Regions from separate parts of the Homo sapiens genome. Here region 1 is linked to region 2. Evidence: fine-mapped expression QTL. A gene starts in region 2. The other region holds a variant in brackets. All regions are shown on one strand. Distances are between the middles of the regions.

What was found.
Region 1: its variant is fine-mapped to the expression of ZNF16 in blood mononuclear cells (TOPMed, PIP above 0.99).

What each region holds. Positions count from the first base shown.
Region 1 is chr8:145,053,023-145,055,931 of GRCh38, reverse strand. C8orf33 (chromosome 8 open reading frame 33) reads right to left here. Exons shown (of 5, transcript NM_023080.3): 3 at 2,786-2,870; 4 at 2,489-2,635; 5 at 1-1,914. The coding sequence ends at 1,775. Among named protein-coding and RNA genes, the nearest start is that of C8orf33, 2.0 kb to the right of the region's middle. RefSeq lists an enhancer at 2,091-2,891. The variant T/G (reference allele first, on the strand shown) is at 1,583.
Region 2 is chr8:144,949,394-144,952,302 of GRCh38, reverse strand. It overlaps ZNF16 (zinc finger protein 16), which reads left to right and starts at 1,423. Exons shown (of 3, transcript NM_006958.3): 1 at 1,423-1,506. RefSeq lists an enhancer at 1,294-1,363 and a silencer at 1,604-1,913.

The sequences.
Region 1 (2,909 bases), 100 kb before region 2:
AAGACAAAGGGGCAGGGTAAGGAATGTGAACCATCTCCAATAATAGGTAAGGTCACATGGGTCATGTGTCCACTGGACAGGGGGCCCTTCCCTGCCTGGCAGCAGAGGCAGAGAGAGAGAGAAGAGAGAGAGACAGCTTATGCCATTATTTCTGCATATCAGACATTTAGTACTTTCACTAATTTGCTCCTGCTATCTAAAAGGCAGAGCCAGGTATACAGGATGGAACATGAAAGCGGACTAGGAGCGTGACCACTGAAGCACAGCATCACAGGGAGACAGGCCTCTGGATAACTGCGGGCGGGCCTGACTGATGTCAGGCCCTCCACAAGAGGTGGAGGAGTAGTCTTCTCTAAACTCCCCCGGGGAAAGGGAGGCTCCTTTTCCCAGTCTGCTAAGTAGTGGGTGTTTTTCCTTGACACTGATGCTACTGCTAGACCATGGTCCACTTTGCAACAGGCATCTTCCCAGACACTGGTGTTACTGCTAGACCAAGCCCTCTGGTGGCCCTGTCCGGGCATAAGAGAAGGCTCACACTCTTGTCTTCTGGCCACTTCGCACTATGTCCCCTCGGCTCCTATCTCTGTATGGCCTGGTTTTTCCTAGGTTATGATTGTAGAGTGAGGATTATTATAATATTGGAATAAAGAGTAATTGCTATAAACTAATGATTAATGATACTCACATATAATCATGTCTATGATCTAGATCTAGTATAACTCTTCTTATTTTATATATTTTATTATACTGGAACAGCTCGTGCCCTCAGTCTCTTTCCTCGGCACCTGGGTGGCTTGCCACCCACATAGGCAGTCATGCCATTCACTGAAAAGCAGAAGCCAAAGGAAAACCGGAGCCTAATCAAGTGTTTTAAACACATCAGGTTTGAAATGCCTATGAAGCACCCAAGTGGAAATGCTGAGTAGGCAGCTGGGCTCCAGGTATCAATCTAGTCTGGGAACTGAGTTTGGAAGATACCAGCAAACATCAAGCCACCAATGAGGATTAGGTCACCTGGAGATTCCCAATTCCATGGAACAGAGGGCCTGAGACTGAATGGCCAACATTTAGACAAGAAGTCTGCCAAGGCTCAATCCAGGTCTCAGGCCAGAACTGTTAGCGCAAGAAGCTCCTTGCTCCTAAGAACAGAGCCTGGCCTGGTAGGTGCCATGCTGGTTCCCTGAGGATGATACCTGCTCAGGAATGAAGGCAACATGCACAAAGGTACCAGGTGAGGGACTGGACCCAGGGATACCACACCCCTGCATCTTCTGTACTTCCTCTAACATAGGTGGTCAGCATACTCTTTCACTCCTTATCCAATTTTATCAAAAATAGAGATTAGGGCAATATGACATAACAGCATTAAGCACTAAACCATTTGACAGGGATTCCTTTCAAAAGTGAAAACCAGTGTACGATTATACAGCTTCTCCACTAATCTTTGTTACCAACAGCCACTTAATCTAATCCTAAAGACTGAGTACAATATTCCTTCTACAATACTTTGAACACTCACTTCAATTTATTGCATATTTTCTAAATGCACCTCTCTCTCTCTTCTGAAAGAGAGAACATTTCA[T/G]CAGAAAACGAACGGGGTCTTTTGCCTATCTGATGGTCTCACACCTTCACAACAGCTACAAATCCTTGGACCAGCCAGGGACAGACCAACTCCAGGGTTCTCTGACAACAGAAGTCCTGGAAAGGCTCTGCACTCAAAACAAACCCCTACACCACCCCAAGGGAGGGGGATTGTTTCAGGTTCGGGGAGACGCTAAAAGAAATTGAACCTAAACTCTTCATCAGGCATGTCCAGAGTGGCTTTGGCTCTCCATATAGAGCGAGGCCTGCAGACCCTTTGGCTCTTCTTTCTGGTGGCTCCATCTACAGGTTGCACCTGGGCTGAATAAGCAGCTGTCGGGGAGAGAAGCAGCGTATGTCAGAACTGAATAATAACAATTAACATTACCTGTACAGTTATGTTTGCCCATACAATTCTAACCACCTTGCATAAATTAACTGATTAATTCCTCAAATTTGTAAGGTTGATATTACTATCATCCCCCACTTAGAGAGGTTCAGTAGTTTGCAAAAGGTGTTAGTACTACTATGTGGTAGATCCAGGATTTGAACCTAGCTGATCTGGCCCCAGGAATTGCACTCAAACTGTTATGGGATATGGCTTCATTGCTAGTAGAGAAAGCCAAGACACAAAGACATGAGGCAGCTTTCCCCAACCCAGGAGCAGGACCAACATAGGACCATGCTCTTTCCCACTCCTCCCAGGGCCTCCCCGCTGCTTCCCAGGTTCAGTCCTAGGAAGAGGAAAGAGAGGTCCACGCTTTCTGTTTCCCTGCTCCCTCAGGCTTCCCTGAGCCCATCTCCTTCCCCCACCAGGCTTGTTGCTCTGGGCCTTCTTCCTTTCACCCCCTAGACACTTCCTCCTTAAGTTAGGCCTTCCTGAATCAACCAGTGGCTAGCTCCTCACCAGCTCTGAGAGCCCGCAGGGCCTCACGCCATTCGGCTTCCATCTGAGCCCTATAGTCTCCAAACAAGGAGTGCATCAGCTGCCTCTTCCGGGGCAAGGGCGTTCTTTTGCTGCGCAGGGTTCGGATTGCTCCAATAGCCTGCTCTTCTGCGAATAAAAATAAAGGACTAGTGAACACCTCTATTACTGACCTCCTACCACCCCGCCGCAAAGCCAACAACTCCATACTCTGCCAGCACCTGCAGGCCAGGCAGTGCCACTGTTCACATCCCCCAGCTCTACAGAAGGGTCCCTTACTCTGTTTCGGGGTGGGTTTCTGCCTCTTGAGGCCCAGCTCCAGTTGCTCCACACACCAAGCCAATTCCTGGGCCAACTGTTGTGCCTGTGATGGATTTGGGGAAGTGGCTGTGAGAGGGCACTG
Region 2 (2,909 bases):
TGAGGATGCAAATGCATAAGAAGGATACAATGGACTTTGGGGACTGGGACTCAGGGGGAAAGTGCAGGAAGGGCGTGAAGGATAAAAGACTACAAATTGGGTTCAAGGCATACCGCCCAGGTGACGGGTGCACCAAAATCTCACAAATCACCACTAAAGAACTTACTCATGTAACCAAACACCACCACCTATGGAAATAAAAATTTAAAAACCTATGGAAATAAAAAAATTAAAAATAAATAAAAAAATAAACATAAGTTCCAATTTCAGGCCATCTCTTTGTGAATGCATATGACTGTACACTTTCAGAAAAAGGTATGTCACATCTTGAATGCTTTGCTGCTTAGAAATTTCTTCTGCCAGATGCCCTAAATCATCTCTCTCAAGCTCAAAGTTCCACAGATCTCTAGGGTAGGGCCAAAATGTCACCAATCTCTTTGCTAAAGCATAGCAAGAGTGACCTTTACTCCAGCTTCCAATAAGTTCCTCATCTCCAACTGAGAGCACCTCAGCCTGAACTAAAAAAAAAAGGGGGGGGGGTTATCTAGACAGTGTTTCTTAAATTCCAATAGAGTTTGTCATGCATTTTTTATTATGTATTCCTGATTTTGATAGTTTAATCTGCCTGCAAAATGAACGTCAAAATATTTGTGAGGTTTTTTTTGGTTGTTGTTGTTTGTTTCTTTTTTTTGAGACAGGGTCTCACTCTCTCATCAGTGCAACATGTGATCCCGGCTCACTGCAGCCGCACATTCCCCGGCTCAAGCAATCCGCCCACCTCAGCCTCCTGAGTAGCTGGGACTACAGGCGCACACCATCACACCTGGCTAACTTTTGTATTTTTTGTAGAGATGGAGTCTCCCTATATTGCCCAGGCTGGTCTCAAACTCCTAGCCTCAAGCCATCCGCCCGCCTCGGCCTCCCAAGTGCTGGAATTACAGGCGTGGGCCACCGCACCCAGCCTTATTTGTATTCTTTATGTCCAAGTGTACAATTCATTTCCGTATTAGAAACGATCCATGCACAATCTCACGAAAACATGTTATCTACTGAAGGAATCTGAATTCTTCCATTTATCTATCTAATCACTTACTGATTGAATGATTCAGTTCTTCCAAAAAACGTATCCTTAGGTTTTTATCAAACTACCGTCTGTTCCGATTCTGGGGGCCTGTATATTAAAATCTCCCACTACACGAGTATATCTCATTATCTCTGCATTTCTATTAGTGTCCCCTTTTCTTCAGTTGCCGCCTTGTTCAGTGCACGGGTCAACTCTGAAAAAAAGGGGAACAGAAGGGTCTCTGGCCTCAGGGCTAGTGGGACCAGGTCTGGGGCTGAACCACAGAGTCGCCCCGGCCTCCCGCCATCTAGAGAGGCTACGCTGCCCCAGATAGAACGAGCGGCGGGCCGGAATTCGGGGCGGGACTTCCGGGGGTCAGCCGGCGTTGGCTGAGACGTCTTCGTGCCACGGTGCTGCCTCCTTTCCAAGCGCGACCCGTTGAGGTTAGTTCCGCGAAGCTCCACGCCTGGGACCCTGCGTCTGGTTGTCCCTGATGCCCCCGTGGTTGGGGGGCCCAGGGGCCTCTCAGGGCTCAGACGGGGCGGGCAGCGAGCTGGGGACCCCGGGCGGGGGCGGAGCCGCGCGGGGGGTTGTGGGAGCGCGGGGGGGGCGGGGCGGGGGCAGCTCGGCCTGGGCTGGAGGTCAGAGCCTCTGGGGGCTGCCTCCGGTAGGGGGTCTCCGGGGAGACCCCGGGGTAAGGTCGCCGCGAGGGGCCGAGCCAGGACTCCGCCCACAGGCTGGTGGCGTTCCCGCCTGTCGGTGCCACCATTCGAGCTCGGGCGGAGCGACGGGGTGAAGGGGTGGCCTGCCCTTCCACACCTGTGGGATATCTCATCAGGTGGGACGAGAGACTGAGAAAAGAAATAAGACAAAGTGTAGAGAAACAACAGTGGGCCCAGGAGACCGGCACTCGGCACACTAAGGACCTGCACCGGCACCGGTCTCTGAGTTCTCTTAGTTTTTATTGATTATTATTTTCATTATCTCAGCAAGAGGAATGCAGTAGGAGAGCAGGGTGATAATAGGGAGAAGGTCAGCAAAAAAAAGCATGTGAGCAAAAGAATCTGTGCCATAATTAAGTTTAAGGGGAGGTACTATGCCTGGATGGGCACGTAGGCCAGATTTGTTTCTCTCCACCCAAACATCTCAGTGGAGTAAAGAATAACAAGGCAGCATTGCTGCCAACATGTCTCACCTCTCACCATAGGGCAGTTTTTCTCCTGTCTCAGAATTGAACAAATGTACAATCGGGTTTTATACCGAGACATTCAGTTCCCAGGGGCAGGCAGGAGAGAGTGGCCTTCCTCTATCTCAACTGCAAGAGGCTTTTCTCTTTTACCAATCCACCTCAACACAGACCCTTTACGGGCGTTGGGCTGGGGGACGGTCAGGTCTTTCTCATCCCATGAGGCCATATTTCAGACTATCACATGGGGACAAATCTTGGACAATACCCGGCTTTCCAAGGCAGAAGTCCCTGTGGCTTATCGCAGAGCATTGTGCCCCTGGTTTATTGAGACTGGAGAATGGCGATGACTTTTACCAAGCATCTGCTTGTAAACATTTTGTTAACAAGGCACATCCTGCACAGCCCTAGATCCCTTAAACCTTGATTCCATACAACACATGTTTTTGTGAGCTCAAAGTTGTGGCAAAGTGGCTGGGGCAAAGTTACAAATTAACAGCATCTCAGCAAAGCAATTGTTCAAGGTACAGGTCAAAATGGAATTTCTTATGTCTTCCTTTTCTACACAGACACAGTAACAGTCTGATCTTTCTTTCTTTTCCCTACATGGGGCAGCAGTGCGATGGGGTGGTTCCCAGCGCATGGGAGACAAGGGTGGGT